Regions from separate parts of the Homo sapiens genome. Here region 1 is linked to region 2. The links come from fine-mapping of genetic effects on gene expression. Tissue or cell type: tibial nerve. Region 2 holds a variant in brackets; the other region holds the start of a gene. All regions are shown on one strand. Distances are from middle to middle.

Region 1 (16,455 bases), 32 kb before region 2:
TACTTTAGAAAAGAATTGCTCTAAAACACAGTGAGCTTCTTTTATTTTTATTTTTTGAGAGACAGGGTCTCACTGTCACCCAGGCTGGAGTACAGTAGCCATCTGCGGCCTTGAACTCCTAGGCTCAACAGATCTCCTGGCTCAGCCTCCCAGGTAGCTGGAACTACAGGCTTGTACCACACCTGGCTAATTTTGCTGTTGTTGTTGTAGAGACAGGGTTTTCACTATGTTGTCCAGGATGGTCTCAAACTCCTGGACTTAAGGAATCCCTCTGTCTCAGCCTTCCAAAATGTTGGGATTACAGGCATGAGCCACCATGTCCAGCCTTCTTTTTTAGTTGCAACATGCACTATTCTGTTACTGGAGTAATAATACATCATTTTAATGTAATGTCATAGACTGTTATAGTTGTCATAGTATGTAGCGAAAGAAAACGTAACTATCTTTTTTCTTTGTTCATTAACTTATATGTCTTCTCCTTGCCAGCATTTCCTGTGTTACCTGTAAATTGGACAGATGTGGAACAAATGCAGTCTTAAAAAGGACATTTCTTATAACCCATGATCGATGCTTGTCTGTGAGCAAGAGAGTGGGAATTCCTTGGAGAGGCCAGGAAACAAAAGACAGAAAGGTCTTCTCTCTGGGGACAGTATTCTTTCTCTGTTCACCGAGAACAAGGCCAGAAGGCAGATGGGCACAGCAGCAGTAATAAGTTACCTCATCAGGCAGCAGATACTCACCCCTAATAGTTCTACATCACACCTTCCAACGTCTAGATATATGAAAAAGCACTCGTCTAATATATTGGTTTTTAGCAAAGTTATATTCTACAACTTAATATTACAAGAGCTTTTGTTATTGTGATTTAAAAAAACAAAAACATAAAAACAAAAATTATACCTCGAAATCAACAAACAACCATCAGGGAAATTTGGGCTGGCACACGGCTAGAAACATAATTATTACCAGATTCACTGACTTAATGTGGGACATAAGAAAAGCAGTGATAAAATGGCTGATTACATTTTTTATTTGGAAAGTCTGCCTCAATATGACAATAGATTAACTATTCTAATAGGTCTTTTTCCACTACTACTCATTTTATGGAATATTTTAGAGGAAAAAAACCCTTTCATTTTTTCTGGAACTAGTATATTACAAGGCTGGTTGGGTCTTCTGAAAATTGAACTGGCACATTATGTAACTGCATGGCATAAGAGAGTGCCCAGGATTTGCAACCAGAAGACCTAGGTTTGGGTGTCAGTCACCTGCTAGTTGTATGACCTGGGATAAAATAATTAAATCTCTGTAAGCCAGTTTCCTTATTTGAAAATGAGGATAAAAATATCTGCCCTACCCAAATGAGATAAGTATATAAGAAAGTACTCTGTAAACTACATAGTTATAAATGTTAGTTCTATTTCATTATCGGCTCACTAATCTATGGGAGCATGAAACTATATACTTCTAGTTTATGTCTAAAGATACATAATATTTGTCAGATATTTAACACTGTGGTGCCGAGTCAGTTCTAAGGTCCTTATACCATAAATACCTTGAGAAATTTACCTTATTAATTCTCCTGAGGAAATGGACAAACATGTTAACTCCTTGCTGTTTTCTTTCCAAAAGTCTTTATTTCCTTTTGAAATTCAATAACCTTAAAGGAACACCTATCTAGTTTCTGACTATTTGTAGCTCAATTATCTATGAGCCCAGTTTTTCCTGTCTCTTAAACCTCCAGCTTTACTGACAGTTATTTAACTTCTTAGGTGTTTCTCTCTTTCTGGTAACAAGATAGAGGAAAGTCAAAAGTAGAGACAGAAGTGAAAAGTATAGTTAAATAGAATCTTTTTGGTACCAGCAGTGAAATAAGTTGGGGTTTGAGGGGAAAGGATAAAACTGCTAGGTAAGAAACTTGAAAGTTAATTGTAGATTTCAATTGTATCCTTCAATAGGCTCAAGTCTCTGCTCAGAAGACATATCATCAGAGAGGCCTTCATTGACCACCCTACCTCAAATAGCACCTCCACATTCCTATCCTTCTACGTGACTTTATTTTTATGGCCCTTGTCACCACCTGACATGATTTTAATTTTATTATTCTCCCATTACAATGTAAATTTAATATGTGCAATAACTTTGTTCACAGCTATAATCCCAACAGTCAGCACAGCCACTGGTACGAAACAGTTCCTTATGAGTGAGTGAATGAATGAATGAATGAATATATCTATAATATTCAAGTCCTCATACTTGATAGATGATCAAAGTATATATAACTTTAATTTAAAATATAAAAAAGTAATTTAAAATATACATTTTCTTGGTGACAGAGTGTTCTGAAATATAGAATGTTTCCTTTCAAGATATGTCAATATCCCAAACTGGTACGTTTACTGTTTCATTAGTAAAACATATACACATAGAAACATAAAATTAGGCTGCTGAAAGAGTCAGAAACATAAAAAAGGAAAAGTTAGAAAGGTAAAAAAGCTCTCACCATTTTTTTTCTTAAACAAGAAATTAACTGCAACTAAAATACATTAAAATTTTGAATAACAAGCTCAAAAACAATTTTTTTTTTTAAATTTGAGACAGGGTCTCACTCTGTCACCCAGGCTGGAGTACAGTGGTATAATATTGACCCACTGCAACCTCTGCCTCCTGGGCTCAAGCAATCCTCCTGCCTCAGCCTCTTGGGTAGCTGGGACTACAGCCTTGTGCCACCACAGCTGACTAATTTTTTGTTGTTGTTATTTTTTTATACAGACGAGGTTTCACCCTGTTGCCCAGGCTGGTCTCGAACTCCTAGGCTCAAGTGATCTGCCCCCCTCGGCCTCCCAAAGTGCTGGGATTATAGGTGTGAGCCACATCTGGCCCCAGAACAATTTCTGATATAAAATAATACATATTCTAGATGGTAGGAAAAATAAATTCCTTTCACAAACACTTAATAATAACTATTTTTATATAGACATAAATCTACTTTTTTAACATAATTTAAATCACAATTGGATCCTTTCTAAAAATTAAGCTTCTTTCATATGTGCTTACCGGGAAGAAAAAAATACAATTAGGACTGTTCACAGTGGTTATTAGAATATGACCGTTTATTTTAGGTAGATGTTTAAAGGATCCTCAAACTCTGAAGTTTAGGAAAAACTATGATTCATCCTAAGACATATTTGAGAAAAAAATGAAAAACTTCTTAGATATGAGAGTAAGAATCTGTTACTAACAAATGCCTAAATAAATTAAAATTGAATTTTTTAAACACTTGAAAAATAAAAATTAACTTACCTATAGGGTATCCCAATGCAAAGTCATTACTTTGTGTAGCAAAAATAGGGAATAGTCCAGCTTTGCTAAATCGACTATCAGGACTGGCAACCAATAAGGTTAATACACATACAATGAAAAATACAGAAGCTTTGGCAATTAAGATACTATATAGGAAGGACCAGTCCACATTGGAAAAATTAAGTACAACCATGTTTTTGAATAATAAAGCTGGAAGTGCAAATCTGGAGACAAAATTTCCTAGTCCTTTGGCCTGGGTTGATGTTATGACATTGGCCCTTCCTGCTATGTAGCCACAAAGGACAATGCCAAAGCATTCCAGTAAGGCTGGAAAAAGCCTTGTAATTGACATTGAAGGTGGGTCATTAGTGGAATTAAATCCATGCGTTACTGCTGTAGGCAAAGTCTTGGTCATATTGACTGCAATGGTTAAGTTCTCTGCAGGTAAATTAGAATTCATTTTCTCTCACCCTCCAACTCCAACCAGATCTCTGGAAAGAAAGGAAGAAAGATTCAGTATGGCCATCAACAAGAATTCTAGTTGAAATAATACACTGGCAAACCTAGATTTGTTTACTTATTAAATGGCCAAATAAATATACATACCCCTAGATTTATTTACTTATTCAATGGCCAAATAAATATACATACCATCAGGGAAAATACAATGGAAAAAAAAGTGGGGGGTTGCTAACAATAATCGCTTCACTCTCAAAGGCAGGTCAGCTCAAAATATTTATGTTGCTAAGTTCTATACTCAGTATTAGACATGAGTAAAATAAGATCCGCAAATATTAGAGCTGCAGTGATGCCCTGTGGTTCTCTCCAGTGATTCTCTCCATCAATTGAGCTCCGCCTGGTGGATAAGGGCATCGGGCACACATAGTCTCCGCTGAATGTCCCCATGCATCCAAATTCTCTGGAAATTTCAGAAGTTCTCAAGGCTACATTGAGGAGTCACCCAGGGACCAGAGTCCTTTCCAGCCCGTGGTCATATTTGAATATAGGATGGGAAGAAGGGTATAGTAGAGCACTACTAATCAACTTTAAACCAATAACTTTTTTTTCTAAAGACAGGGTCTTGCTCTGTCTCCCAGGCTGGAGTGCAGTGGTGCAATCTCAGCTCAGTGCAACCTCTGTCTCCTGGGTTCAAGCGATTCGTGTGCCACCACGCCCGGCTAATTTTTGTATTTTTGTAGCGACATGTTGCTTAGGCTGGTTTTGAACTCCTGACCTCAGGTGATCTGCCTGCCTCAGCATCCCACAGTGCTGGGATTACAGGCATGAGCCACTGTGCCCGACCTGAACGAATTAACTTTAACTTTTCTGTGTCTCACCTTCTTCACCTGTAAAATGGCAATAATAGTAATACCTACCACATGGGAACTTGCGATTATTCCACTGAAGTCTTTATAATCACATCTGGAACAGAGTAATTACTTAACGGAAGTTAAATATAACTTTTGGTAGAACATGAGAGAGAGAAAAAAATGACGACCTCCCACCAATATACCTTTAGCTCCTTCTACACCCGCCACACACACTGGCCCCAGGGACTTTGTGCCACAGGGACTTTGCACATTCAGTTCACTCAAGTGTCACGGAAGCAGGGACTATGCATGTTTTTGCTCAATGTTGTGTCCTTAACATCTAGGACAGTACCTGGCATACACGAGACAGAAAAAAAAATTTTTTTTAATGAATAACTATAATTACTTATACTTAAACCTTTTACCCTTTCATGGATCAATGTTCTCTTTCAGGCACTATTTAGTTTACAGACAGAATTTTTTTTTGTTTTCTGAATGATAAAGTATTATAAGTTTTCCACTACAGCAACAGAACCAAGAACACAAAATATGTCTAAAGGTGTTCATGAAATGTTAAAAAATACAAAATGTTTTGTAAAATGTTCTAAAGAGGTTCAGAAAATGCTAAAGCATGGAACAAATTCAAAACACGAATAGTACAATAATTATCAGACCCCCTCTTGCTGCCAGGAACACAATGAACATGAGGTCTGGATAACTCTAAAGCTAATCAGCTTTTATTAGTATCTTGAAATTAAAATGACGACAATTGCCAATTTCTTTTTCTTTTTTTTTCAGATGGAGTTTTGTTCTTGTTGCCCAGGCTGGAGTGTAATGGCGTGATTGCGGCTCACCTCAACCTCCGCCTCCCAGGTTCAAGAGATTCTCCTGCCTTAGCCTTCCCGAGTAGCTGGGATTACAGGCATGCACCACCATGCCTGGCTAATTTTGAATTTTTAGTAGAGACGGGGTTTCTCCATGTTGGTCAGGTTCGTCTCAAACTCCCAACCTCAGGTGATCTGCCCGCCTCGGCCTCCCAAAATGCTGGGATTATAGGTGTGAGCCACCACGCCCAGCCAACAATAGCCAATTTCTAAGTGATTATTCTGGGTTTACCATCTAAAGTAGACTGATATAAGGTAGAAAGTAAAAAGCTCATGCTTCCAGAAATTTACAATGCTCAGGTTAAGTCCTCAAACATCTATATCACATTAAAAAGACTTAGATGGCAGCCCAGAGATCACCAACAACTGATAGCTGGCGTGGGTACAAGGGAATTTTCTCTGTGCTACCCTTGTATAAACCGAACCATTTGAAAACCTTATATTTAATCTGGATTAGGACAAGTATTTTCCTACTAGGATTAGATAGCAGTGGTCAATATAGTACATGAAACCTACACTACTCACATACTTGAAGTTTACCAAATAAGCATCAAATTATATCTTGGGAAAGCTACCGGTTGGTACAGATACACATACTTGAAGTAAGGAGCTGGTAAACAATTAAACAAAGGCGTTAAACATTTGGAGCCCTTAAGACGGTGTGTACTTGGAAAGGCAGTGCTAAACAGGAAAGTGATAAATTAATCCAGTCTTCTGTTCACTTTCAAAAGTGCCTAGAGTATTAATAACTCATTCTGCTTATAAGCCCTTACTTGTACAACACGAGCATGTCAAGGCATTCCAATAATATTTTTTAACCAACAGTTTAAACTAGCAGAAGTTCAGTGGAGAGTCAAACAGATTCTGAGCTTTATGGTTTATCAACTCATAAGTTACTTAGTCTTTCTGAACCTTTGTTTCCTCAACTGTAAAATGAGAGTAAAAACCTCCCTATAGGGATCAGTCATAGCAGCTCACGCCTGTAATCCCAGCATTTTGAGAGGCCCAGGCAGGTGGACTGTGTGAGCCCAGGAGTTTCAGACCAGCCTGGCCAACATGGCAAAACCTTAGTCTCTACAAAAAATTAGCTGAGCTTAGTCATGCGTGCCTGTTGTCCCAGCTACCTGGGAGGCTGAGGTGGGAGGATCACCTGAGCCTAGGAGGTCTCTGCAGTGAGCCATGATCACACCACTGCACTCCAGCCTGAGTAAGACCCTGTCTCAAACAAAGACCTCCTTAGAGGGATATTGTGTGGATAGAATATTTTATATACAGCTTATCACAGAGTAGGCCTTCAAAAAACGGCAGCAATTGCTATTAGGAACTGTTGTCTTACTACTAATAATGATAAAAAAGTAAACATGTTAGTTCTTCAAACATAACTGGTAAAAGATCCACCAACTAAAAAAAGAGGGATGGGATGCGTCATAAATTTATCAGTTTTTGTTTTATACCAAACAATTAAGATAAGTTGAATTTAATTTGGTTTGATAGTAAATGGTTAACAGTGAAGGCAGAGCTCTTCATTTTTCTCAGGGTGATGGTCAAATAGTTGTAGCAATGTCCAAGATTAACTTTCAATTCGTTGAAAAATTAAAAAACAAAAAAACAAAACAAAAAAAAGGGCCGGGCGCAGTGGCTCACGCCTGTAATCCCAGCACTCTGGGAGGTCGAGGCGGGCGGATCACCTGAGGTCGGGAGTTGGAGACCAGCCTGGCCAGCATGGTGAAACCCTGTCTCTACTAAAAAGACAAAAATTAGCCGGGCTTGGTGGCAGATGCCTGTAATCCCAGCTACTCGGGAAGCTGAGGCAGGAGAATCTCTTGCACCCGGGAGGCAGAGGTTGCAGTGAGCCGAGATCCTGCCATTGCCCTCCAGCCTGAGCAACAGAGCAAGACTCCGTCTCAAGAAAAAAAAAAAAAAAAAGCAATCTGCCCCTCCCCATGAGGTTTCTTTTAACGTTTCTCAGTATTATAAAAGAAATACCTGCTGAGGTAAAGTCAAAATAATCAAAATGACTTTAAAAGTTTCATTTCATCCTAATCTTTTTTAAACGGGAAGATAATATGCTTTCTAAAGCATATTTTAAAATGAACAGGAACCACAGCAAGGGAAGTTTTAAAAAAAAAATTACATCCAGCCTTTTTATCTATAAAAACAAAGCTTGTTACAGAACAAACACGTTCACAGTAAAAGACCACTCGCTGAGGCACGAACTGAAGAAATGCTACTGTACTTACAAACCGCTTCTAGCCACATCACATTTGGCTTAGATCACATAAACGAACCACTGATACTGTAAATAACTGCTATTAAGTGAAAATGCGGGGGGAAGGCGAGGGTTGACTAACTTCATAGAGAAAGCTTTAAACTCTCAGGCTATTTCTCAAACATCCAACATCCTTTATCCCGTGGGATAAGTGTAATACAGTGTGGTACTATTAGAGCACTCTTCAACATTAATAGTCGCACCATTCACCCACTCCTACCTACTTGCAGGGCGCCAAATGTCCTCCCTAGAGACCCAGGGTAGGGAGCGCTGAGCACTGCCTCCTTGCCTCGTCTGCAGGGACAGACTGTGGCCCTCCAAGATAAGGGGCGCAGAGAGTTCCTAACCGAATAGGCTGCTCGGAGAGCAGCTGCCAGCCAACCCCTGGGAAGGCAGCTGTGGAAGTGGAAAGGCAGCCAGGGGTCTTTGCCTGGCGTAAGAAAAAGGTGGTCGCTAGTCTTCCCAGGGCACGGGAGTCACAACGTCATGGTAACTAACATACCCCAAAAACGGGTAAGGGAGAAAATTTGGCGCAGTGCTCCAGGTGCCTGGGCAGAAGCCTTCGGAAGGGCCAGATACTGAGGGTACCCTCGGGATAAAGGGAAGAGTCTAAGAAAGACAGGGTGGACGCCCGTGCAGTGAGGAGCTTCCCAAACTAGGGATGGCAGTTCTGTCTCCGGAGGGGACGAGACACCCCCTCCCCCGCGCGAGCCTTCCCGGGTGATCTCACACGTTCCACAGGCAGGCGCTGCGGGGCAGAGACAGCAGGTCCAGACAACGGGCCGCGGGGCCAGGGCGCAGAGGGTCGGCGGCTGCCCACGTGCCCAGGCCTGAGGGGCAGAGGCAGGGGTACCCCGTGCCCGCAAGGGAGAACCAGGACCCAGCAGGTCCGCGCTCCAGGGGCCCCTCTCACCTGCTTCGTCTGCAACCTTGGAGTGGCGAGGAGAAGGGAGCTGGTGCTCGCAGGGTGCCAAGCAGGGAGAAGACCACCGTCATCTCCCGCCCCCAGCCCTCTTCGCCGAGCGCAACCGGGTGCCAGCTGCAGCAGCTTAGGCACGTTCCGATAAAGTAAGGTGGGGTAAGCCGATGCGGCCCTGTCAGCTCAGCCCCTCGCCGGCCGCGAGGCCCCGCCCCCGCCCCGCCTTCAGGCCCCGCTCCCTCCCAGCCCCGCCTTCAGACCCCGCCCCCAGCCCCGAACTTCCAGCAAGACGGGCCGCTTCCCGCCCTCGAGCCCCGCCCATTTCCAGGAGCCTTGAGCCCAGAGTCTCCGTCCCGCCCTCAGGCCCCACCCACAGCCTCGGGCCTCCGAGCCACACGTTCCCCAACCCCGCCTTCAGTCCCCGCCCCCTCCTCCAGCCTCGGAGCCCCAGGGTACCCGGCCCCGCCCTGCCGGCTGGGAGCCTCCCAGCCGCGATCCTCCGGGGCGGGACTTCCGGCTTCCCTGCTCCCACAAAATGGTAGCCGCCGTGGGGGATGTCCAGTTTTTTTTCCTCTTCCCAAGTACAGACGCAGAGCAGACTTGTCTTTCCGCTTAACCTCAACCTCGTGTGATCTGCCAGTTTCGCTCCCGGTTAGCCCAGGACTTTTTATAGCATAGAGTTTTAAAGCAAGGGCTTAGAATCAGACCTGGGTCAAAATCCTGCCTTCCACCTTCACCAAGGCAGTGTGACCTTGACGTTCCTACATAAGAGATTAAAATGTAAACCCTTAGCCCTGAGCTTGTTTTAGAATCTGGGCCCCGTCCATGACTGCTTCTATTCTATTGCGGTACGGGGGTGGGGTGGGGGTGGGGAACTACATGCATGTCCACTCAGTATACTGAAACTGGTTACATTGATGGAAAACTTCCAAAGCTTCTTGAAATAAAGGTATTGAAACTATCCTCACAGGGTTTATAAGAATTCTGGACAAAAATATAATTAAGCATTAATCAGGCTACACTTTGACCCACTTCCTTGTAACCCGAAAGTCGGGTAGAGCTAGATAGTACATTTGTATCCCGTTGTCCCTATAGATAGGCTTTCTGATGTTAAGAGTCGTAAGGCTTTTTAAGAATTGCTTAAAATGTTTTTCAGACGCCAAATTCCAGCGAAACAGCTGATGCCAGCCAGCTTGAAGACCCCTGCCACAGAAGAAGGGAATCAGCATGAGAATACAGCTTCTTCATCTCGCTGTCCCATGACTTCGCCCTGTACTCTTCAGCCAATTAATGATCTCCACACTTGGGACCACTCTAAAACCCTTAAGAACCTGAGACTCAAAGTCCTCCTGGAGACGAATTTGAGGTTTCCTCCTATCTGTGTTTGGTGGCCCTATGATTAAACCTCTTTCTCTTCTGCAACCTGGTGTCCCAGTGTATTAACTTGCCATGGGCATCAGACAACAAACCTATATATAGTATCCCAAATATGGTGCTCCACTTTGAAACCTGAAGAAATCCTGCAATTGAGTTAGCCTTTTGAAATAAAAATTATTTCAAATTTTAAAATATTTATATATGTTTCCACTTAAGATATCTACAAGCATTTGTTTACAACCTTTTATCTTGCTTTGCATCTTAAACATTTCTGTATGGCAATTTCCGTGTCTTCCTATCATCTCGGCCATCTTAGTGCAAAGATACAAAATTGTGTGGCTTATTAAGAAAAATTACAGTAAGCTAAGGGTAGGTTAAAGGATCTGAAACTTAGCAGGAAAAATGAGCAGAAATTAAAGCTATAAAAGGCATGGATCCTGCTCCAGTTCTCTTTGCTTCTCCTTTGTTCTCTGTCTTCCTCACTTTTAACTGCCTTCTTTGTTTCCCTTGAACCTGACTACTTAAAAAAAAAATTGAAGATCTAAATTATCTCAAGGCTAAAAGGATTTTTGTTTAGGAAGTATGAAGATTAATTCAATTAAATAAATACTTATTGAGCATTGACTATCAGGGGAATACTGGAAGATAGGCCTGCAGAGGTAAGTTACGGTCAACCTGTAGGAGGTTCCTTGGGTTAGTTTGAACCTTATCCTTTGGCCACAGTAAAACATGTAACTTTTCTTTCCCCACAGGAACATGTCAGAATGATCACACTATTTGTGGGTGTGTAATCTGGAAGCTGTACCATGATTAGTTGAAAGAGAGACTGAAGGCAAGAAAAACAGTGTGGTGACTTGGAGAAGAACCAAGACATAAGGAAATGAAGACCTACTCTTGGGTGATGACAGTAAAAATAATGGAATAGGCCTGAGAGACAGGAAAAGGGAGAACTGATGAGACTCAGTTACTGATAGGGCTAAAGAGGAGGAAGGACAGGGCAAGGTGGCTCACGCCTGTAATCCCAGCACTTTGGGAGGCAAGGCAGGAAGATCACTTGAGCCCAGGAATTCAAGACCAGCCTGAGCAACATGACAAAACCCCATCTCTACAAAAAATACAAAAATTAGGCTGGGCGCAGTGGCCCAGGCCTGTAATCCCAGCACTTTGGGAGGCCGAGGTGGGTGGATCACCTGAGGTCAGGAGTTCGAGACCAGCCTGGCCAACATGGTGAAACCCCATCTCTACTAAAAATACAAAAATTAGCCGGGCGTGGTGGTGTGCGCCTGTAATCCCAGCTACTTGGGAGGCTGAGACAGGAGAATCGCTTGAACCCGGGAGGCAGAGGTTGCAGTGAGCTGAGATCGTGCCATTGCACTCCAGCCTGGTGACAGAGCAAAACTTGGTCTTTAAAAAAAAAAAAAATTAGCGGGGTGTGGTGGCACACACCTGTGGTTCCAGCAACCCAGGCAGCTGAGATGAGAAGATTGCTTGAGCCCAGGAGGCGAAGGCTGCAGTGAGCCAAGATCGCACCACTGCACTCCACCCAGAGCAACAGAGTGAGACCCTGTCTGAAAACGACAAAAAAAAAAGAGAGAGAGAGAGAAGGAAGGATTTAACAAGCTTATGTATTTCCTCATCCATTAAAATAAAGAAAAGAAATTGAGCTAGAGAGCTTCTAGTATCCTGTCCAGCCATAAAATTTCGTTGTTTTCTATTATTCTGTTACCTGAAAATGAAAGGAAGAACTATTTCAGTGGGAGAAGCAGTTTCAAGGAGAAAATAATGAATGTGGTTTTAGACCTCAAATCTAAAACCTTGAGAAATTTTCTAGTTCAGTTTTCTCTCTTGAAGTTATCATCCTCTCCATCTGAGACTCTAGGAGATTAAGCAGTTGGTCTAAGAACACTCAACTAGTCCATGACAGAGAATGAGAATAAAAGCCCCCCCGTCCTGTAAACAAACTTCTCATAAAGGCATCAGCACATGTATGTAGAGATTTCCGGTAGACCCCTAGGGAGAAAACAGAAAAGAGAGAGAAAGAGCAGAAATAAAGATATGGTTTGAGAAGACATCCGTACAGAATTGATGAAGTTTCTTGTGGAAACCTCATTGGTGAGGTTTCCTTCCACAGAGCAGCTTGTGGAAGGAAACTCTAAGAACAAAATGTAAACAAAGATGAAAGACTTCATTAAAAAGTCACCCTCAGAGAAGTAGTTACCAATGAACGCCACGAGAAACTAACTTAATTCCACTGCCATATCTGCTAATCATTCTGTGAGATGCTGACTTATTCTATACTATTAACTGGAAAAAATGAAGAAAAGCTAAAAGTAATGCAGAATAATGGAGGGAAAACTGTAAATTAATCATAACTTTCATTTACAAATAAGTGGGACCTATAAACTTCAAGCACACTGATATCCCGATTTCCCTCAAGTCCCGCTGATCAAAATTGACAGGAGAAACAAACCAAATGGTTTGATACAATGACAAAGGTCATGTAGGATATATGTTGAGGCAATATGATGTACATGTGGATTCCTGGTGAATTTTATCTTTTCCAAAATGAAGTACTTCTAATGTTTCTTTCTATGAAAGTAATAACAATGATAACATATTCAGATAATACAGAAAGGAATGAAGAAAGTGAAAATCATACCTATGGATAACTTCTTTAATATTATACCATATATGTATCATTTTATGCAAATATAGATTATTTAAGAAAAATAGGATTATACATATGATTTTCATACACATGATTTTAGTCACTTCTCATTTAGTAATACCTTTTTAATCCATAAACAATTTATTCATATAGATAGATTTATATCATTTTTAATGCCTATTAAATACTCCCTAGCGAAATTTTGAGGATGATCTTCTTCGAAAAAGTGGAAACTGGGCCATCTATAAAGTCTAATCAAAGTTGAGTAAAGCATAGAAAAATAAAAGAGAGTGACTTAAAATGTGCTGTTTGAACATGTCTAGTACGATGCCAGATTTTGTTTAAAAACTTTTAGTTTCTTTAAAACTCCCCTTCCCCTTCCCAATAGCATCATTTTCTCTTTAGGGATTCATGTTTCCAGAGAAGTTGACTTCACTCTCCCTTCAGAGATGATGTAACTAATGTAGGCTGTCCAATCAGTGTATTTCATCCCTTTGCACTTAATGATTAGTCAGGGTAGGCACTGATCCTGAAGTAGCTCAGCTGAATAATTTTCAGGACTTTTGCAGAGAATGCTGATCTTCTCTTTCTTGCTAGACAAGAGGAAGATGCCGACAGCCATTTTAGAACCATAAGAGAAGCCAGTCTTAGAATGGTGCAGAGACCAAGGTAGCCACAGCAGAGAGAAGGAAATAAACAGGGACCTTGATGACATATTGAGTTGTGGGGTCAAGCCCCACCTAAAGCAGCCTCACCGGTTGGCCTGTGGACTCTTCATTGATGTGTACCAATCAGTTTTCTTCATTGTTTAAACAAGTTTGAGTTGGGTTTTCTATTACTTAAAATCAAATGCATAGGAAAAATGCTAAAGGAAAATGCAACAGTAATTATCTCTGAGTGGTAAGAATACACATGATTTAAATTTTTTTTTTCTGTGCAGAAAAGTTTCCCTTTTTCTTGATAAAATTAATATACAAAGTATGTATTTTGGCTATATGAAAATCTTCTAAAACAAATTTTAAAACGATGATCGTTTATTAAACCAGGAATATATATGAAATCCACCCATAAAATAGAATGATTTAAGAGCATGGATATGATGCAGCCTATGACCTTAGAGAAGACAAAGGCCTTGCTTTTGTTGATCTTTGTATTCTCAGCATTTAGAATAGTGCTTTCCCTGACATATGGCAGGCATTCTGTAAATGGTTTTTGAATGATTTAATAAAACATAATTGCCTATCAGCTATCTAGGAAGTTGGATTGTAACTATGGGAAGTATTTGATACAAGCAACTGTGACATAGATCTTTTACAGTAACTGGATTTCTTGTTTCCAGCTTTTCACTTGGCCAAGTTTTATAGCTTTATTTAAATATTCCCCCTGGCTAGACACAGTGGCTCACACCTATAATCCCAGCACTTTGGAAGGCTGAGGTGGACAGATCATGTGAAGCCAGGCTGGCCAACAGGGTGAAACCCTGTCTCCACTAAAAATGCAAAAATTAGCTGGGTGTGATGGCGCGTGCCTGTAATCCCAGCTACTTGAGAGGCTGAGGCAGGCGAATTGCTTGAACCGGGGAGGCGAAGGTTGCAGTGAGCCAAGATCACGCCACTGCACTCCAGTCTGGGCGACAGAGCAAGACTTCATCTCAAATAAATAAATAAATAAATATTCCGCCAAATTGTTGACTCCTTTTTGTGATTGTAAATGCTAGAATTAAATAATTATTTCTGATCTGTCAAGTTAAAACCCTGAGTATTATCTTTTAATATACATATATATGTTTATGTGTGCATAAATATACGATAGCTTTTTTTTTCTTTCGATCTGCTACTGAAATATTCTCACAAAAGCAATAAAGTGGAACCTAAACATCTCACGTGGCTATTGATCTTGTTATTGACCCCAAGAAAGGCTCAAATGTGATTAAATGGGCAGAGGCTTTTGTCTAGGCCAGCACTTAAGAAGTTAAGCAGAGGCCGGGCGCGGTGGCTCACGCCTGTAATCCCAGCACTTTGGGAGGCCAAGGCAGACGGATCACTGAGGTCAGGAGTTCAAGACCAGCCTGGCCAACATGGTAAAACCCTGTCTCTACTAAAAATACAAAAATTAGCCAGGTGCAGTGGAACGCGCCTATAATCCCAGGTACTGGGGAGGCTGAGGCAGGAGAACTGCTTCAACTTGGGACACGGAGGTTGTGGTGAGCCCAGATCATGCCACTGCACTCCAGCTCGGGGGCCACAGAGCAAGACTCTGTCTAAAAAAAAAAAATGTTAAGCAGAAAAACAATGAAACCAGAACTAGCTTATGAAACTGAAAGTTAAATCGATGACTTACGTAAGATAGGCTGCAGAAATCATACAATAGAAGCATGGTAACTTTGGGGGCCGCACCAGTCTGTTTCAAGACTTAGCTTCTTGATACTTGTGGTTTTGTTTTGACCACTTTTTTTTTGAAAGGAGTTAGAGATCAGGAACATGAAGATGAAAAACAAAAAAATACACTTGTTCCTACTTCTGAATTGTTCATTTAAAAGTGGGCTCACTAACAAATTTATTTAATAGGCAGCCTTTAAAGAAATAATATTTTAACTGTGCAGAGCACTTTCTAATTTGAATAATGCCTAAGTTGAAAAACTAAAACTAACCAACATTGTAAAACACAAGCAGGAAGTGGAGAAATCTCAGATTTTAACCTTGACTTTAGATTAAGAATGTTTTTAGCTGATTCTAGTTAAAACATTTTCGAGTAAATAGCTAGCTCAAAAAAAGGCTATCACATCCTCAGCACAACAGTGAAGCACATACCTCAGGTGCATTCTTCCAGTAGAGGAAATTTTTCAGGGGTTCCAGTCTCCTTCCTTCCTTGAAGGGGCAGGTCCTCTATCTGTGTTGATTTCTGTAGTCTCTTCAGTATCAGAACAGTATTTGGTAGAATAGAAAGTAGAAACTTGATCAACTTTTGTTGCCCTACTAAATCTTACAATAGAGCTAAATAAGTTGGTGACATTTTTGTATTTAGAGAATCACTCAAAACAGAAACACCTGTTCTTTTTTTTTTTTTTTTTTCCTCGAGACAGTCTCACTCTGTCGCTCAGGCTGGAGTGCAGTGGCACGAGCACAGCTCACTGCAGCCTCAACGTCCCAGGATCAAGTCATCCTCCCACCTCAGCCTCCCGAGTAGCTAGGACCACAGGATGCACCACCACACCCGGCTACTTTTTGTATTTGTTTTTGTAGAGATGGGGTTTTGTCATGTTGGCCAGGCTGGTATGAAACTCTTGGGCTCAAGTGATTCGCCCACTTCAGCCTCCCAAAGTGCTGGTATTATAGGCATGAGCCACCACGCCGGGTCCCTGCTCTTTCTTAGACTGCTTCTTTCCGCTATTAACAAAAGTAACTGATAGAGAAGAATTATCAAAACTCAAGTGTCTACATGGCAGCAGAGGAACTAGACAATTTTTATAAATGACAGTGGCTGAAACAGGATAAATCATGGGGACTCATCATTGATATTACATAGACTAAATATGATAGTGTTCCATTAATTAATTCTACAAATATTTAAATGTTCTCAGAATTTCAAACATTATTTAGACTTTTCTTCACCTTAACTCTTATGTAAGCTTTCCCTAGACCTTCCCAAAAAGTTGAGACAGGAAAGGAAACTTAAGACTTCTGAAACACAAGAGCATTCACCAGGCCTACTCACTAAGAGGTCTG
Region 2 (16,455 bases):
TGTCCACCTTGGCATCCCAAAGTGCTGGGATTACAGGCGTGAGCCACCACACCTGGCCAACATCACAATCTCTTAACAGCAGAATTGATCAAGCAGAAGAAAGAATTAGTGAGCTTGAAGATAGGCTATTTGAAAATACACAGTTTGAGGAGACAAAAGAAAAATGAATAAAATAGAATGAAGCATACCTACAAGATTTAGAAAATAGCCTCAAAAGGGCAAATCTAAACTACTGGCCTTAAAGAGGAGGTAAAAAGAGAGATTAGGGTAGAAGTTTATTCAAAAGGATAATAAGAGAGCTTCCCAAACTTAGAGAAAGATATCAATATTCAAATACAAGAAGGTTATAGAGCACCAAGCAGATTTAACCCAAACAAAATTGCCTCAAGGCAATTACTAATCAAACTCCCAAAGGTCAAGGATAAAGAGAGGATCCAAAAAGCAGCAAAAGAAAAGAAACATACAAAGAAGCTCCAATATGTTTGCAGCAGACTTCTCAGTGGAAACCTCACAGGGCAAGAGAGAGTGGCATGACATAATAAAGCTGCTGAAGGAGAATGCAACATTTAAAACTTCCTATAATTCAATTTTATTAAGAGTAAATCAACACTTTAAAAAAATCTTGGGCTGGGCGCAGTGGCTTACGCCTGTAATCCCAGCATTTTGGGAGGCCCAGGCAGGTGAATCATGCGAAGTCAGGAGTTTGAGACCAGCCTGGCCAACATGGTGAAACCCCATCTCTAATTAGCCAGGCGTGATGGTGCATGACTGTAGTCCCAGCTACTCAGGAGGCCAAGGCAGGAGAATCACTTGAACCAGGAGGCAGAGGTTGCAGTGAGCTGAGATCACACCACTGCATTCCAGCCTGGGCTACAGAGTGCAACTCCATCTCAGGAAAAAAAAAAGAAAGAAAATATGTTGTTCTAATCAATTATTTAGTGTCTTAGTGTGTTTTTAATATCAAAGCCCAATCTCTAGAAAGATGATTATAATTTCCTTTTAATTATAGACACCTTAATCACATACAAAATTTCTTTCATAAGTTCTCCTTTTGTGAACCTTAACGTGACTTACACAGACCATTTATGACTTGCTTGGACTTTCTGTTTTGTCCTAAGCATCCCTCTTTTTAAAATAACCAGTCATTTTACCATTTACCAGGGTAAAAGGAGGCATGTCCAAACTTGCCTTTCCCATCATGGCCTGAAGTAGTCTCTCAGGTTTCTTTGGGATCCTGTTGGCCAAGAGAGAGGCCTGTTTAGCCAACTGGGGGGCTTAGAATTTTATTTTGGTTTACAACCTCCACTCAACTAACCCCTGAGTTACAGTTGCTCTGTAAGGCCCATGTGACATTCTACTTACAGTTCACAGCTCTCTCCTGGGCTTACAGGTGAGGCTTAGGTCACAGGCACATGCTAACTTCTGGCAAAAAATGCAGAGGGCCACTGAGGGTGCCCCACGGTGTGATGACTACTCCTGACTGATCTGGTCTGTGTGCTGTAAACTCCTGAGGTTTATCGGCCAGAGAAGGAACGCTGGCCGCTGGCCACAGTTCATTTAATTCATTTTATTTTATTTTTTTTTTTTTTGAGAAGAAGTTTCGCTCTTGTCGCCCAGGCTGGAGTGCAGTGACGCGATCCTGGCTCACTGCAACTTCCACCTCCTGAGTTCAAGCAATTCTCCTGTCTCAGTCTCTCCTGTAGCTGGGATTACAGGCACCCACTGCCACGCCCAGCTGATTTTTGTATTTTTTTGTAGTAGAGATGGGGTTTCACCATGTTGGCCAGGCTGGTCTTGAACTCCTGACCTCAGGTGATCCACCCACCTCAGCCTCCCCAAGTGCTGGGATTACAGGCGTGAGCCACTGTGCCCGGCCCATTTAATTAATTCTATCAGTGGGAACGAAGGTAAATTCCGTGTTCTTCCTCATAATAAGGTCTCATAGTGTCTTTATATATGTTTTTAGTGTTTTTACCCTTTAACTGTTAACTTTTGCATTTAACTAAACCTACAAAGCAACCCAAAAAGCCCAAAGTCCAAGATTTATCTCTGATCACTTCCTGGACTTTCCACACTTACTAGAGAACAAAGCTCACTCCTGCTTTTCCTCCATCTGCCTTGTCAGTATTGCCAAGAATTTTAGTTTTGTTTCTTAAAAGAACACATAAGAATTCAATTCTCTCAAGTTTTAAAAACATATTACCCTCATATTGCTACTCATTTCTGTGCCTGCTGCTCTTTCCTGAGTCTGACTCCTTCCCCCCGGGCTCTGGGAGTGGTGAGGACGTACACAGGCTTCAAAGCCAGGCTGCCTGGTGTAGAGCCTTGACTGCCACTTTACAGCTGTGTGATCTTGGATAAGTAACTCAACCTTTCTGTGCTTCAGTTTTCTTTTGTGTAAAATCAGGGTAATTATAGTAGCTCCCTCAAGATTGCTGTGAGAATTAAATGACTTTTGGGCTTTGAACACTATCTTTGCATATAGTAAGTATTCAATAAGTGTTTGCTGTTATTATTATTTTTCTATACTATGTCCTTTTCATCAATGGTCTTTCAGTTATAGTTCTCAGGTGCTTTTAAATGATAGTTTATGTGGGTACAGATTTTTAGGTTGATGGTTATTTATCATCAGCACTAACTTCCATTATTACCGGTTGTCCTCTGGCACTTGTTTTTGGCGATGAAAAGTCAGGGGTCCATCTAATCATCATTCCTTTGTAAGCAATCTCTACTTTCTTTCTGGGAGCTTTAAGAGTTTTCCTCTTCAGCTTTGATTTTCTGTTGTTCCATCGTAATGTGTAGGTGTAAGTTTACTTTCACTTTTCCTGCTCTGTACCTCCTGTTACTTTTAATCTGAAGGATTCTGCCTTTGTCAAAGTCTATCAGTGTATTAGCTATTATCTCTTCAAATAGCACTTCTCTTCCATTTCCTTTGTTCACTTCTGGGACTCCTGTTTGAAGTAGTTTGGAACCTCTCCACATATTGTCTGTGTCTCTCAATGGCTATTTTCATATTGGATAATATTATCATATTTAATATTCACTATTAGCACAGTTAGGATAATAAAGAAGTGGGTCGTTATATTTGAAGAGTGTCCAGGAAGTTATGTTTTCAAAATTATCTCATAAAAATCATCATCTGCCTGATACTGCTCTTGTCTAATATAGGGCTGCCATTACAAAGGAAAAGATGTCTGACTCAAGCATTCAGTTGATTCTGTTTGCCTTACGTTTGGTTCAGTGATAGGTTATCCCTAAATCATGAAGACCTCTGGCCAACTCCCATAGTCCTCTTCTCTCTCTCTTTTAATAGATGAGGAAACTAAGGCCAAACAGTTCATCGACTTCCGGAGAGACACGTCTGTAAATCTTATTCCCCTCTAGGGCCAGCATGTTTTCATCTTCTCCTTTGCGGCCACCTGAGACCAAACTAGCACCATCTCTCACCTGGACCACTGCAGTTAACTGTTCTTCTACACCCATTTTTGTTCTTTATTTCCACCCACATGGGTCAGTGAAGCCAGAGTGACCTCTTAAAAATAAAAATCTGATCATGATTTCCCCTCCTAAAACTCTTTTTTTAAAAAATAGACTACTTTTTAGAGCCAGTTTTAGGTTCATAGCAAAATTGCCTAGATGTTCCACAGTTTACTTATTCATTCACTTACTGAAGGACATCATGGTTGCTTCCAAGTTTTAGCAACTATGAATAAACCTGCTATAAACATCAGTGTGCAGGTTTCTGTAAGGACGTAAGTTTTCAACTCCTTTAGGTGAATACCAAGGAGCACAACTGCTGGATTGTTTGGTAACAGGATGTTTAGCTTTGTAGAAAACGACTAAACCATCTTCCAAAGTAGCTGTATCATTTTGCATTTCTACTAGCAATGAATGGAGAGATCCTGTTGCTGAACATCCTCATCAGCATTTGGTGCTGTCAGTGTTTCAAATTTTTTTGTTAGTATTAACATGGTATGTCTTTCTCCATCTGTTACTTTTAATATTTACATGTCTTTATATTCAAAGTGGGTTTCTTATAGACAACATATTGATAAGTCTTTTATGAACCACCTTGACAATCACTGTCTTTTAATTGGTATATTTAGGCCATTGATGTTAAAGTGATCATTGATATAGTCTGATGGACATCTACCATATTTGTTACTGTTTTCTATTTGTTAAGCTTATTTCTTTTCTTCTCTTTCTTTCCATGCCCCTTGCCAGCGGGGATCTATTTTTTGTCTGTCATTCTTTTTCTGCCTTTTATGGTTTTAAATAAGCCTTTTATGTTATTCCATTTTCTCTTATTTTTTGGCTATACTTCTTTTGTCACTTCTTTATAGTGATTGCTCTAGAGTTTACATTATACTTTTACAACTAATCCAAGCCAACTTCCAAATAACCCTATACCATTTCACAGGTAGAGTGAGTATCATATAAGAGCAAAATAATCCTAATTCCTCCCTCCCGATCTTTACATAATTGCTGTCATTTATTTCACATATATAAGTACATATAGACTATGATATATATGTAATATATAATGTGCATATATGTATAATATACCGAACATATACATAAGCATACACAATTGAATGCATTATTTCTGTTATTATTTTGAATGAACTGTTACCTGTTAGGTCAATTAAGAATAAGAAAAATAAAAGTTGGGTGGGCATGGTGGCTCACACCTGTAATCCCAGGACTTTGGGAGGCCAAGGCAGGCAGATCACCCGAAGTCGGGAGTTTGAGACCAGCCTGATCAACATGGAGAAACCCCGTCTCTACCAAAAATACAAAATTAGCCGGGTGTGGTGGCGGGTGCCTGTAGTCCCAGCTACTTGGGAGGCTGAGGCAGGAGAATCGCTTGAACCTGGGAGGTGGGGGTTGTGGGGAGCCGAGATTGCACCATTGCAGTCCAGCCTGGGCAACAAGAGCAAAACTCCATCTCAAAAAAAAAAAAAAAAAAAGAAAGAAAGAAAGAAAGGAAGGAAGGAAGGAAGAAAGAAAGAAAAATTTTTTTTTTTGAGATGGAGTCTCGCTCTGTCACCCAGCCTGGAGGGCAGTGGTGCAATACCTGCTCACTGCAGTCTCCACCTCCCGGGTTCAAGTGATTCTATGCCTTAGCCTCCCAAGTAGCTGGGATTACAGGCATGTGTCACCACACCTGGCTATTTTTTGTCTTTTTAGTAGAGACAAGGTTTCACCCTGTTGGCCAGGCTGGTCTCGAACTCCTGGCCTCAAGTGATCCACCTGCCTTGGCCTCTGAAAGTGCTGGAATTACAGGCATGAGCCACTGTGCCTGGCCTCTCCTTCACTTTTGAAGGATAATTTTTCTGGTTGCAGAATCTTGGGTTGGTGGTCTTTTTCTCTCAACACTTTAAATATTGCACTCCACTATCTTTTTGCTTGCATAATTTCTGATTAGAGTTGGATATAATTCTTATCTTTGGTCTTCTGTAGGTAAGAATATTTTTCCCTCTGGCTTTTTTAGAATTTTTCTTTCCTTTGATTACCTGTAATATAAAAATGATATGGTGGCCGGGCATGGTGGCTCACGCCTGTAATCCCAGCACTTTGGGAGGCCAAGGCGTCACAAAGTCAGGAGTTCAAGACCAGCCTGGCCAAGATGGTGAAACTCCGTCTCTACTAAAAATACAAAAATTAGCCAGGCGTGGTGGCGGGAGGCTACTTGGGAGGCTGACGCAGAGAATTGCTTGAACCCAGGAGGCAGAGTTTGCATTGAGCCGAGATCGGGCCACTGCACTCCAGCCTGGGTGACAGAGCGAGACTCTGTCTCAAAAAAAAAAAAAAAAATGATATGGCAAGGAGTGATTTTTTGCCCTTATCCTCTTTGGGGTTTTCCAAGCTTTCTAGATCTGTGGTTTGGTATCAGACATTAATTGGGGGAAATTATCAGATATTGTTTTTTCAAATATTTCTTCTGTTCTTTTCTGTCTTTCTTCTCATTTTAGTATTCCCATTATGAGTTTGTTATACCTTTCGTAGTTGTCCCAGTTCTTGGATATTTTGTACTGTTTTGGGGTTTTTTTTTTCAGTCTTTGTTCTCTTTGCTTTTCAGTTTTAGAGGTTTCTACTGACGTAGTCTCAAGTTCAGAAATTCTTTCCTCAGCCATGTCCAATCTGCTAACAAGCCCCACAAAGACATTCTTTATTTCTGTCACAGTGTTTTGAAAATCTCTAACATTTCTTTTTTTTTTTTTTTTTTTTTGAGACAGAGTCTCGCTCTGTTGCCCACGCTGGAGTGCAATGGGGTGATTTTAGCTCACTGCAACCTCTGCCTCCTGGATTAAAGTGATTCTCCTGCCTCAGTCTCCCAAGTAGCTGGGATTACAGGCGTGTGCCACCACGCCCGGCTAATTTTTGTATTTTTAGTAGAGATGGGGTTTCACCATTTTGGCCCGGCTGGTCTTGAACTCCTGACCTCAGGTGATCCACCCTACTTGGCCTCCCAAAGTGTTGGGATTACAGGTATGAGCCACCGTGCCTGGCCTGTTTTTGTTTATTTTAGGATTTCTGTCTCTGCTTACATTGTCCATCTGTTCTTGCACACTGCCTGCTTTATTCAGTAGAGCCCTTAGCATGTGAATTATTGTTATTTGAAATTCCCTCTCTGGTAACTTCAACATTCCTGTGGTGCCTGTTTCTTCAAACTGTGTTTTTTGCCTTTTAGTATGCCTTGTAATTTTTTCGTGATAGCCAAGCATGGTGTATTGGGTAGAAAGAAGTTATAAACAGGCTTTTAGTGATGAGGTGGTGAGGTGTGGTGGGGAAAGGAAGCTATATTTCTTAAGTTTTTCTCTTTGTCTCTTATCTAACGAGGACATGCTGGTCACATTGATATAGTTTAGACTTCCAAATGAATTCTCCCCTTCCAGTGACTCAGGCTGTCCCTCTTCTCCTTCTCACTGCCATCTCATATGCTATCACTTTGTGCCTAGTCTCCTGTCTGCTCCAGCTCCCTTCAGCATTTCCTCATTTCATGTGATTTCGCTGTGACAATGAAATACTTTCAATTTCAAGGGATAGATAACTCAGACAAATGTAAGCAATGGAAGTGATTTATTGGCTAAAAAGTCCAAGGTATGATAGGCTTCAGGGGAGGTTTAATTTAGTTGTTCAGCCATGTTATACAAGACCTGCCTTCTTTACCTTTCTCTTCTCTGTCTTCAGTCTTGTCAACTTCATTCTAGATCTTGCTTCTCTCAGAGTGGCAAAATGAATCTAGAGATTCAGGTTTCATATCCCTATACCATTCTGCCCAGAAGAGGAGAGAGTGTCCTCTGTGGTGGCTCTCAGAAAAGTAAGAAAGTGTCTTTCTAGAAGCCCCAGTGAACATCCTTTGCATGTTACTAGACAACATTTGCCAGATGCCCTTCCTGAATCAACATCTGTGCCTGCGAAAGAGCATGCACTAGTTGGCTTAGGTCTGGGTTGTATGAACCAATACTGTGGAAAGAGAGATAGGATAACCTGATGGACTTCGACTCATACAGCTGGGAGTGCAATCAGATTCTCCTTAAACATGTGAGAGAAGTAGGCATCTGATGGAAAACCTGGACAGAGTGTGGACCAAGGACAGGGAAAATGGATGCCAAGTAGCTAAAAATGCCCACTACCCTTGTACGTGGTTACTTCAAAAATCCTAATAAAACACCATTTTTATTTTATTGCTCTACTGCTCTAGCCCAAAGGCCAAGTCCAATCTGCCAGTGTTTTTGTTGTTGTTGTTGTTTATTTTTTTTATTTTTCGAGATGGGTTCTCCTTCTACCACCCAGGCTGGAGTGCAGTGGTGTGATCGTAGCTCACCATAACCTCAAACTCCTGGCCACAAGGGATCCTCCCACCTCAGCCTCCTGAGTCACTGGGACTGCAGGCATGAGCCACCATGCCCCACAGCCACCTGTTTTCTTTCTTCTTCTTCTTTTTTTCTTGAGATGGAGTCTCATTCTGTCACCCAGGCTGGAGTGCAGTGGCGCGATTTCAGCTCACTGCAACCTCTGCTTCCTAGGTTCAAGCGATTCTCCTGCCTCAGCCTCCCGAGTAGCTGGGACTACAGGCAAGTGCCACCACGCCTGGCTAATTTTTTGTATTTTTACTAGAGATGGGGAGATGGGGTTTTACCGGGTTAGCCAGGCTGGTCTCAATCTCCTGACCTAGTGATCCGCCTGCCTCAGCCTCCCAAAGTGCTGGGATTACAGACATGAGCCACCACACCCAGCCTATCTGTTTTCATTAGTAGCTTTATTGAAACAGCCATGCTTATTTTCAAAGTTTTGTGTATGGCTGCCTTCACACTACAATGAAAAAGTTGAGAGTTGAGATGAAGATTGCATAGTCTTCCAAACGAAAAATATCTACCACCTAGCCCTTTTCAGAAAAAGCTTACAGATCCCTGGCATAAAAGAGTAAATTTATTTTGTTTTATTTACGTATTTATTTTTGAGACAGGGTGTTGCTCTGTTGCCAAGGCTGGAATGCAGTGGTGTGATCTTGGCTCACTGAAACCTCTGCCTTCCAGATTCAAGTGATTCTTGTGTCTCACCCTCCCAAGTAGCTGGGATTATAGGTGAATGCCACCACGCCCAGCTAATTTTTGTATTTTTTGTAGAGTTGAGGTTTCACCATGTTGGCCAGGCTGGTCTTGAACTCCTGACCTCAAGTGATCCCCCTGCCTCAGCCTCCCAAAGTGCTGGGATTACAGGCCTGAGCCACTGCACCCAGCCTAAAAGATTAAATCTAAACTCCTCCTGGATTTCAGTCCTCTATCATCTATCCTCACTTTACTGACCTAATTTTATTGGCATTATTTACTGTATCTAAGCTCTCTAATCTGATCAAATCAGTTTACTCATCCACCCTAAATATTGCACAATCATTGTCCACTTTTCTCTTTTCTTTCGTTCATGCCTAATCCACCCTGGAATGCTCTCCTGTCTCATGTATCTTCAAAGGCCCATCTGAAGTCCATGGAGCCTTCCTTGTTACCTTTATCGGCACAGAGGCCTTCTTTCCTACCTTTATTGCCTCTATCAATCACACACTAAGGCATTCTGAGTCTGTATATATTTTATAAATATGTCATATGTATACCATCTTTTTTGTTCAATTTAATGTAAACCTCCTGAATATTAGTCTTAGTGATATAATATTTTCTATAAGGTATTCCCTTATAGAATTTCAAGTAACGGTGGACCAAGAAAAGGCACTTAACTAATAATTACTAGTCCTGTCAAACTCTACCTCACACATATCTAGAATTAGCCCACTTCTCTCCAGCTCACTAACTACTTGATTCTGAGCCCCATTTACTCTCATCTGGCCTGTGCTAGCCTCCCAGATGCACCCTACCCGCTTTGCCCCACTGCAGTTTTTTCCCACGTAGCAGGTGGACCCACTAAATGTTTAAATCAGCAGGTGTTACTCTCCTGCTTAAGATTCTCTACCGGGTGCGGTGGCTCACACCTGTAATCCCAGCGCTTTGGGACGCTGAGGCGGGCGGATCACCTGAGGTCAGGAATTTGAGACCAGCCTGGCTAACATGGTGAAACCCCATCGCTACTAAAAACACAAAAATTAGCCGGGCGTGCTGGTGCATGCCTGTAGTCCCAGCTACTCGGGAGGCTGAGGCAGGAGAATCACTTGAACTCGGGAGGCGGAAGTTGCAGTGAGCCGAGATGGCGCCATCGCATTCCAGCCTGGGGGACAAGAACGAGACTTCGTCTTAAAAAAAAAAAAAGATTCTCCACTTCTGTGATGTGTCTTAGAAAGTAAGTCATGAACTGTCTCTGCCTACATCTTCCAGTTTATCTCCTTCTGCTTGTCAATGGTCCCTCTGCTGCAGTTTCTCTCTGCTCCCTCTGCCTGGAATGCCCTTCCCTCAGCTCAAGAATGTCTGACTCCTCATGATTATTGGGTCTCAGCTCTCTTCTCCTTGCCTGACCACCAATCTGAACGGGCTCCCCACTTCCTGTCCATCATGTTAGGTCACATCATCCGGCTTTGCTCTCCTCTTGGCTCTGATCTCAACCCCAATATGTCTTGTTTACTGTTAA[C/A]CCTCTGAGTACAAGCCCTCTGAGATTAGTGAGTCTGTCCCATTGGTTCACCCCTGTATTTCCAGGTCCTAGAATGTCCCAGCACATAAGAGGGACTCAATAGCTCTTTGTGGCATAAATGAACTAAACCATTCATAGATTTATTCTCTTTTGAAATAAAAAGGAATACACTGTCACAAAATGTATTCACTGTCACAAAATGCATTTGCCATGTGCCTATTCTCATGGTTTCACTTCTTAGGGTTTTGCCAAAGAATCTGCTCTTAGGGGTTGCATTAGGTTCACTGTCACAAAAATGCATTTGTATTCACAGTCACAAAAATGCATTTACCATGTGCTTATTCTCATGGTTTTACTTCTTAGGGTTTTGCCAAAAAATCTGCTCTTAGGGGTTGCATTAGGTTCCAATGGCTGCTATAACCAAGTGGCACAAAATGAGTAGCTTAAAACAACAGAAATGTATTCTGTCACCATTCAGGAGGCCAGAAGTCCCAAATCAAAGTGTGGGTAAGCTTAGTTCCTCCTAGAAGCTCCGAGGGAGAAACCTCCTCATGCCTCTTTCTTAGCTTTTGGCGACCCGGCAATCCTTGGTGTTCCTTGCCTGGTGGGTGCATTGCTCCAATCTCTGCCTCCGTCTTCACATCACTTGCTTCTCTGTGTGTCTCTGTGCTTGCTGTTTTGACTCTTATAAAGACAATCATTAGATTTACGGTCCACTCTAATCCAGTGAGGTCTCGTCTTGATCCTTAACTAATAACATCAGCAGTAACTCTATTTCTATACAAAGTTGCATTCTGAGGTTCTGCATGGATATGCACTTTTCAGAGACACTACTTGCCCCACGCTAGAGCTTTAGAATACAACACAGAAACTTACAATCTACTCTTGCTGTAATGTAATGCACATACGTTGTTTTTTCGGTGGCCAGCAACCAAGAGCACCCTTCCCAGGAGTACCCCAATTTCCTATTGCATCTTCCAGTTGGAGGACAGTCTTGATCGGAATGTAACTCAATATTTCTCATCTCCTCTCTGCAACCAAGGAGCTACATGTGACCCAAAGTAAGACAACTGGACTCCTGGGATAACTTCTTTTCCCAAATGTATGCTATTTTATGTTTTGGCAAACTTTCAAGAGAGCTTTCATTCCATACTAAATTTCCTTTTTTTTTTAGAGAGAGAAGATCTCTGTCAGTCACTCAGACTGGAGTACAGTGGTGCGATCACCACTCACTGTATGCAGTTTTGAACTCCCTGGCTCAAGCAATCCTCCCACCTTAGCCTCCCAAGTAGCTGGTACTACAGATGTGCACCACCACGCCTGGCTAACTTATTTATTTATTTATCTGTAGAGACACTGTCTCACTATGTTGCCCAGGCTGGTCTCGAATTCCTGGACTCAAGTGATTCTCTTGCCTTGGCCTCCCAAAGTGCTGGGATTACAGGCATGAGCCACTGCACCTGGTCTCACATATTTTTAGTACTATAAATCTGTGAATGCCCAGCAAACATCAAGCAGACTGTACTCTTGGAACTTTTCATCTTGAGTGGAGGCGCATAAGGAATGGGAAAATATTGGAACACATATACTGGAGGAGCAGCACCCAGATAAGATCCTTCAGTTGTTCATGCTGCCTGGACTCCAGGAATTGCCTTCATTCCTGTCTTGTGTCCTGATTTGGCTCTCCAGCCTCCCATCTATCCTGAGTTCCTAGCTAGCACCCTGTTAAAAGTCTCTTTTTGCTTCTGTTAGTCAGAATCCATTTCCATCATTTGCATCCAAAGACATTCAACTATTACACCGAGATCCAAGATTTTTTTCAGCACTGTCGCTGTTTTGCATATTTAGCTCTGAGTTCTGACATGCTGAGTTTACTACTATATGAGATACTACCTTCAAAATGTCAATTTCATCCAAACCCACACATTAGTGCAATTACAAGACAGTACATTAGCATTATTATTAATTTATTTATAACCCAGCTTGTTCCAAAAGGATTTCATTGTGTTAAATTATCCTACAGAGGTATGGCAAGAAAAAAAACATTTAAAATAAGGAACAAAAATGAAACAAAGGAAGAATAAGAGGTAGAAAAGTGAGATGAAGCCACAAGAGAACCTAATCCATAAAAATGGTTACTGCCAAGGCTAGACAATAGGTAGGGGAAAGATGCAGTATCGTGAAAAGGTCTGCAGGCTACAGTTGTTGCCATGGTATTTGGCAACAATATTTTCTATTTTTCATAGTTCCTTCTCAACCTGAATTTCTGTTAAAAGCTTGCAATCTCTCGACATTGAAATGGGACCATGAGATAATTAAGCAGTTGCCAAATGGGAACTAACTGAATAACAGAAAAGAATACATTTGCTTAAAGTCTTTACGTTATTACTTTAAAGATGGTAAAAACCCTGAGATATCTGCTTTAATCTTCATCTCTCTTTCTTTCTCTTTCTTTTGTTTTTTTTGGTTAATATTAGTCAAAACCTGGAAGCTGCAGTGCCTTATTTCAAGTTATGATTTTTTAAATTTTGCTTTTCACAATAGATGGACCTTGAAAAATTTATTCTGTTATCTGTTTTTACAAATTCAAACACTCTAAATGGAAGACAGAAACTATTTAAAAGAAGATTTATAGTCAATCTTTTTGCAAACCAGGCATTACATTTTTACTTATTATTTTAGCGATGTGGGGTTTTCACATGTTATAGAAATGTCAGTTCCCGTCTTGCAGTTTTTATCAAGAAAGCAAAGCTCAGATTTTAAATGCAAATACTGCATAAAGATATTGCTCATACATAGTAACATAGTAAACACAATCATGCTGATCTTCATTATTGTAATGACGATTTTCCCATTTTAATATTTATTGCATTTTTTTTTCTATCAAACCTTTTTCAAAAAGGATCGGAGGCAACTGTGGAATACATCACAAGTGCCACCTAGTGCTTCCTTTGAAAATAATGCTTTTTTTTTTTGGTCTTCAGAAATAGGAACAAAACAAGATGTAGAACACCCATGCTCGTAGGCTGGATCTTGCTTAAGTAGTTCTGCTTCCTAAAAATGAGTGCATTTGTTTTCAGCCAAAACATATGTTGAAAGAAGAATTTGGAAGTGAGTTTCCTTGACTGTGCTCAGACCTCCCAATACTGCTTGGTTTTAATTCTACATAGGTAGACATGGCATTAAGTAAAGGATGCTAAAGAAAGGAAACATAAAATAAGGAATTTCATTAAACAAGAAGTAGCAGTAATTATTTCAAAAAGTATTTTTTCCATCTCCCAGTAGGAGTTGGCATCTTACTAAGTTTGATTTCCATCATCATCATCATCATTATTATTATTTTTTGAGACTGAGTCTCGCTCTGTCACCCAGGCTGGAGTGCAGTTGCGCAATCTTGGCTCACTGCAACCTCCACCTCCCGGGTTTAAGCAATTCTCCCGCCTCAGCCTCCTGAGTAGCTGGGATTACAGGTGCCCACCACCATGCCCGGCTAATTTTTGTATTTTTGTAGGGACGGGGTTTCACCATGTTGGCCAGGCTGGTCTTGAACTCCTGACCTCAGGTGTTCCACCTGCCTCAGCCTCCCAAAGTGCTGGGATTACAGGTGTGAGCCACTGCACCCGGCCCCATCATCATTATGCCCCAAATGACTCCTCTTCCCCATTTTCCCCATCTATAAAGCACTGTGACATCATCATCACCACCACCACCATCAACCACACGCATCAGCTGAGTGCCTATGGTGGTAGGCCTCAGAGCTGGTTGTCAATAAAACACACTCAGGCTTTAGGCTCTGCCTTCAAGGAGCCTAAAATTAACCTGTGAAGAGGAAGAGGAAAAGAAGAAGGAGGAGGACAAGAATGAGGCTGAAAAGTATGTGTACAATGATCAAACAGCAATACTAGATAAAAGCTTTCACCATTTTCCTGGTTCACAGACCAGAAAACTTTGGAACCATCCCCTCTCCTCTATCCAATCCTGGTACTTGGGTCCTATAGCATCCTCCTTTGGAATGCCTTCCTGATTTGTTTTTTCCTTCCCTATTGTGGGTTTACTCCTCCACCTCATACCTGGAAAATGGCAACAGACATACCACTTGGCCTCCTTCCTCTCCTACTGCCAGGCTACCTTGCCTAAAATGCTGCCTTTAACTTTTCATTCTCTTCCTTAAGAACAAGTTGTGGCTCTCTGGTGCTTCTCAGACCACGGGTACACATCTCAGAGCCTAATTTTGAAGATCTTTCCTAATCTACACAGACTTTATTCAATTTGATGAGCCATTACACTGCAACACTAAATTTTTACTCCTAGAGAGCAGGTCTCTCTTTACATTGGAAGCAAGGGGGCACATTATGCTTTCATTTCCTTTTTAAAAAATTATGTTTTTGTTTTGTTTTGTTTTTTCTTTTCTCTTGAGATGGAGTCTCCCTCTGTTGCCCAGACTGCAGTGCAGTGGCACAATCTCAGCTCACTGCAACCTCCACCTCATGGGTTCAAGCAGTTCCCCCACCTCAGTCTCCTGAGTAGCTGAGACCACAGGTGCCCGCCATCATGCCCAGCTAATTTTTGAATTTTTTTAGTAGAGACGGGGTTTCGCCATGTTGGCCAGGATGGTTTCAAACTCCTGACCTCAAGTGATCTGCCCACCTTGGCCTCCCAAAGTGCTGGGATTACAGACGTGAGCCACCACTTCTGGCCAATGGTTTTTTTTTTTTCTTGTGGTATTTCTAGCTGCCTTTTTTTTTTTTTTTGCACCTCTTGTGTCATTTGCCTTTATAATATATTCAACCTTTTTTCAGTTACTTCATTTTATTACTTAAAACCATTCCCCTCCTCCATGTACACTTTTTTCACTGGTGACTTTCCTCCTGCGGCGTCACCTTCTCCTCCAATCTCTACTGGTTACTCTTTCATCTTGCCTCATAGCAAGTCACATTGCAACTTCCCTTTCCTGTTTTTTGGGTTTGTTTCACTGTTTTCTGGATCACTGGTCTTCCCCTTTCTTCATTTTCTCCTTGTTTTGCTGCAGAATATTTTTAAGCAATTTCCCAAAAATGGGCACATGGGAGGTAATTGCTTCAAGTCCTTGCATGTGTGGAAAAGTGTCTTTATTCCACCTTCACACTTAATTGTGCTTGCCTGGCCACACTATTGCAGTTCATAATCATGTTACCAATAACAGTAGCTATTTCCTCGTTGTGTTTTAGTACCTTTTTGTCTTAGTCCGATTGTGCTGTTATAACAAAATATCATAGACTGGGTAATTTATAAAGAACAGAAATGTACTTTCTCACAGTTCTAAAGGCTGGAAGTCCACAGTCAGGGTGCTGGCAGGTTCAGTTGTCTGGTGAGGGCTGTCCTCTGTTTCCAAGATGACTCTTATTGCTGCATCCTCCAGTGGGAAGGAACGCTGTGTCCTCTCATGGCAGAAGACAGAAGGGCAAGAGAGCTGAAAGCTGCCTGAAGCCTGTTTTATAACGGCCTTCATCCCATTTGTGAGGGAGAAGCCCTCATGGTCTAACCACCTCTTAAAAACCCCACCTCTTAAGAGTATCACATTGACCAACAAGGTTTAATCTAACATCTGAATTTTGGAGGGGACACATTCAAACCATAGCACAGTGTTGCTGATGAGAAGTCCAATGTCAGTCTGACTCTTGTTCTTTGTAACATGGAAGATAAATTGTTCCAATTGCACTGCTGTCAAGTTAAATCCTAACAACCCATTTCCCATTTCTAAAATTGAGACTCACAGGTCACACTGTGCTTTTAGTGCTAACTAATGACATATCAGAGTCTGGCTCTGAAAATACAGAACTTCATAATTTAAAAAAATGTCTAATAAAGAGGTGAAAAAGATATTTCTTCTCCATAGCAACTAGAGAGAGGGAGAGAAAGAGATCGTTTCATAGCTTAAAACTTTGTAAAAGAATCTGATGAGGTAAGATGTTAAATGTGAACTCTCACAAGACATCAGTCTTATTTCCAGTGTGATATAAAGTCTTGCACAAATATTCCCAACTTCTACCCACTTTTTCTGTTTTAAGTAAATTTATCATTGAAATTATTATTGAACAAAGAAGTCCTGTAGATGCTAGAAATTTTAGAAATTGTTGCCATATAGCGTAAGCATGACCTTCAACAACATTAGTAATTCTGGCTCATAGTCTTACTTGTTGGTTTGTTGCCTTGGTGATAATGTAGTTGATGCCTATGTTCCCAGTGATATAAACATTAACAGGGTTTCTCAGTCAAATCAAAAAGAGGATTGGCTTTCTCTCCTTTTTCCTATTTGCATAATGGACAAATAAAAGTCTATTCTGCTAGAGTCTTCAACACAAAAAAAAGTTTAAGGTCTTGTCCTAGTTACATCTCCAC

Direction of the effects. Positions count from the first base shown, and alleles are read on the strand shown. Sizes are in standard deviations (SD) of each study's normalised expression.
For the expression in tibial nerve of the gene that starts at base 8,836 in region 1, C is the low allele of the variant in region 2 and A is the other (large effect, 1.2 SD a copy in GTEx).

The links.
Region 1: it holds the start of GPR155, and the variant in region 2 is fine-mapped to the expression of GPR155 in tibial nerve (GTEx, PIP above 0.99). The same link has a PIP of 0.9 or more in esophagus muscle.

The regions. Positions count from the first base shown.
Region 1 is chr2:174,478,194-174,494,648 of GRCh38, forward strand. GPR155 (G protein-coupled receptor 155) reads right to left here and starts at 8,836. Exons shown (of 16, transcript NM_152529.7): 1 at 8,680-8,836; 2 at 3,304-3,794. The coding sequence starts at 3,763. It overlaps GPR155-DT (GPR155 divergent transcript), which reads left to right and starts at 9,195. Exons shown (of 3, transcript NR_183819.1): 1 at 9,195-9,223; 2 at 9,842-10,721; 3 at 10,815-14,609. RefSeq lists silencers at 8,351-8,533, 8,797-8,976 and enhancers at 8,387-8,456, 11,627-11,726.
Region 2 is chr2:174,509,724-174,526,178 of GRCh38, forward strand. LOC124906097 (a long non-coding RNA gene) reads right to left here. Exons shown (of 3, transcript XR_007087309.1): 3 at 11,500-13,273. It overlaps LOC124906096 (a long non-coding RNA gene), which reads left to right and starts at 13,694. Exons shown (of 4, transcript XR_007087308.1): 1 at 13,694-13,950. The variant C/A (reference allele first, on the strand shown) is at 10,078.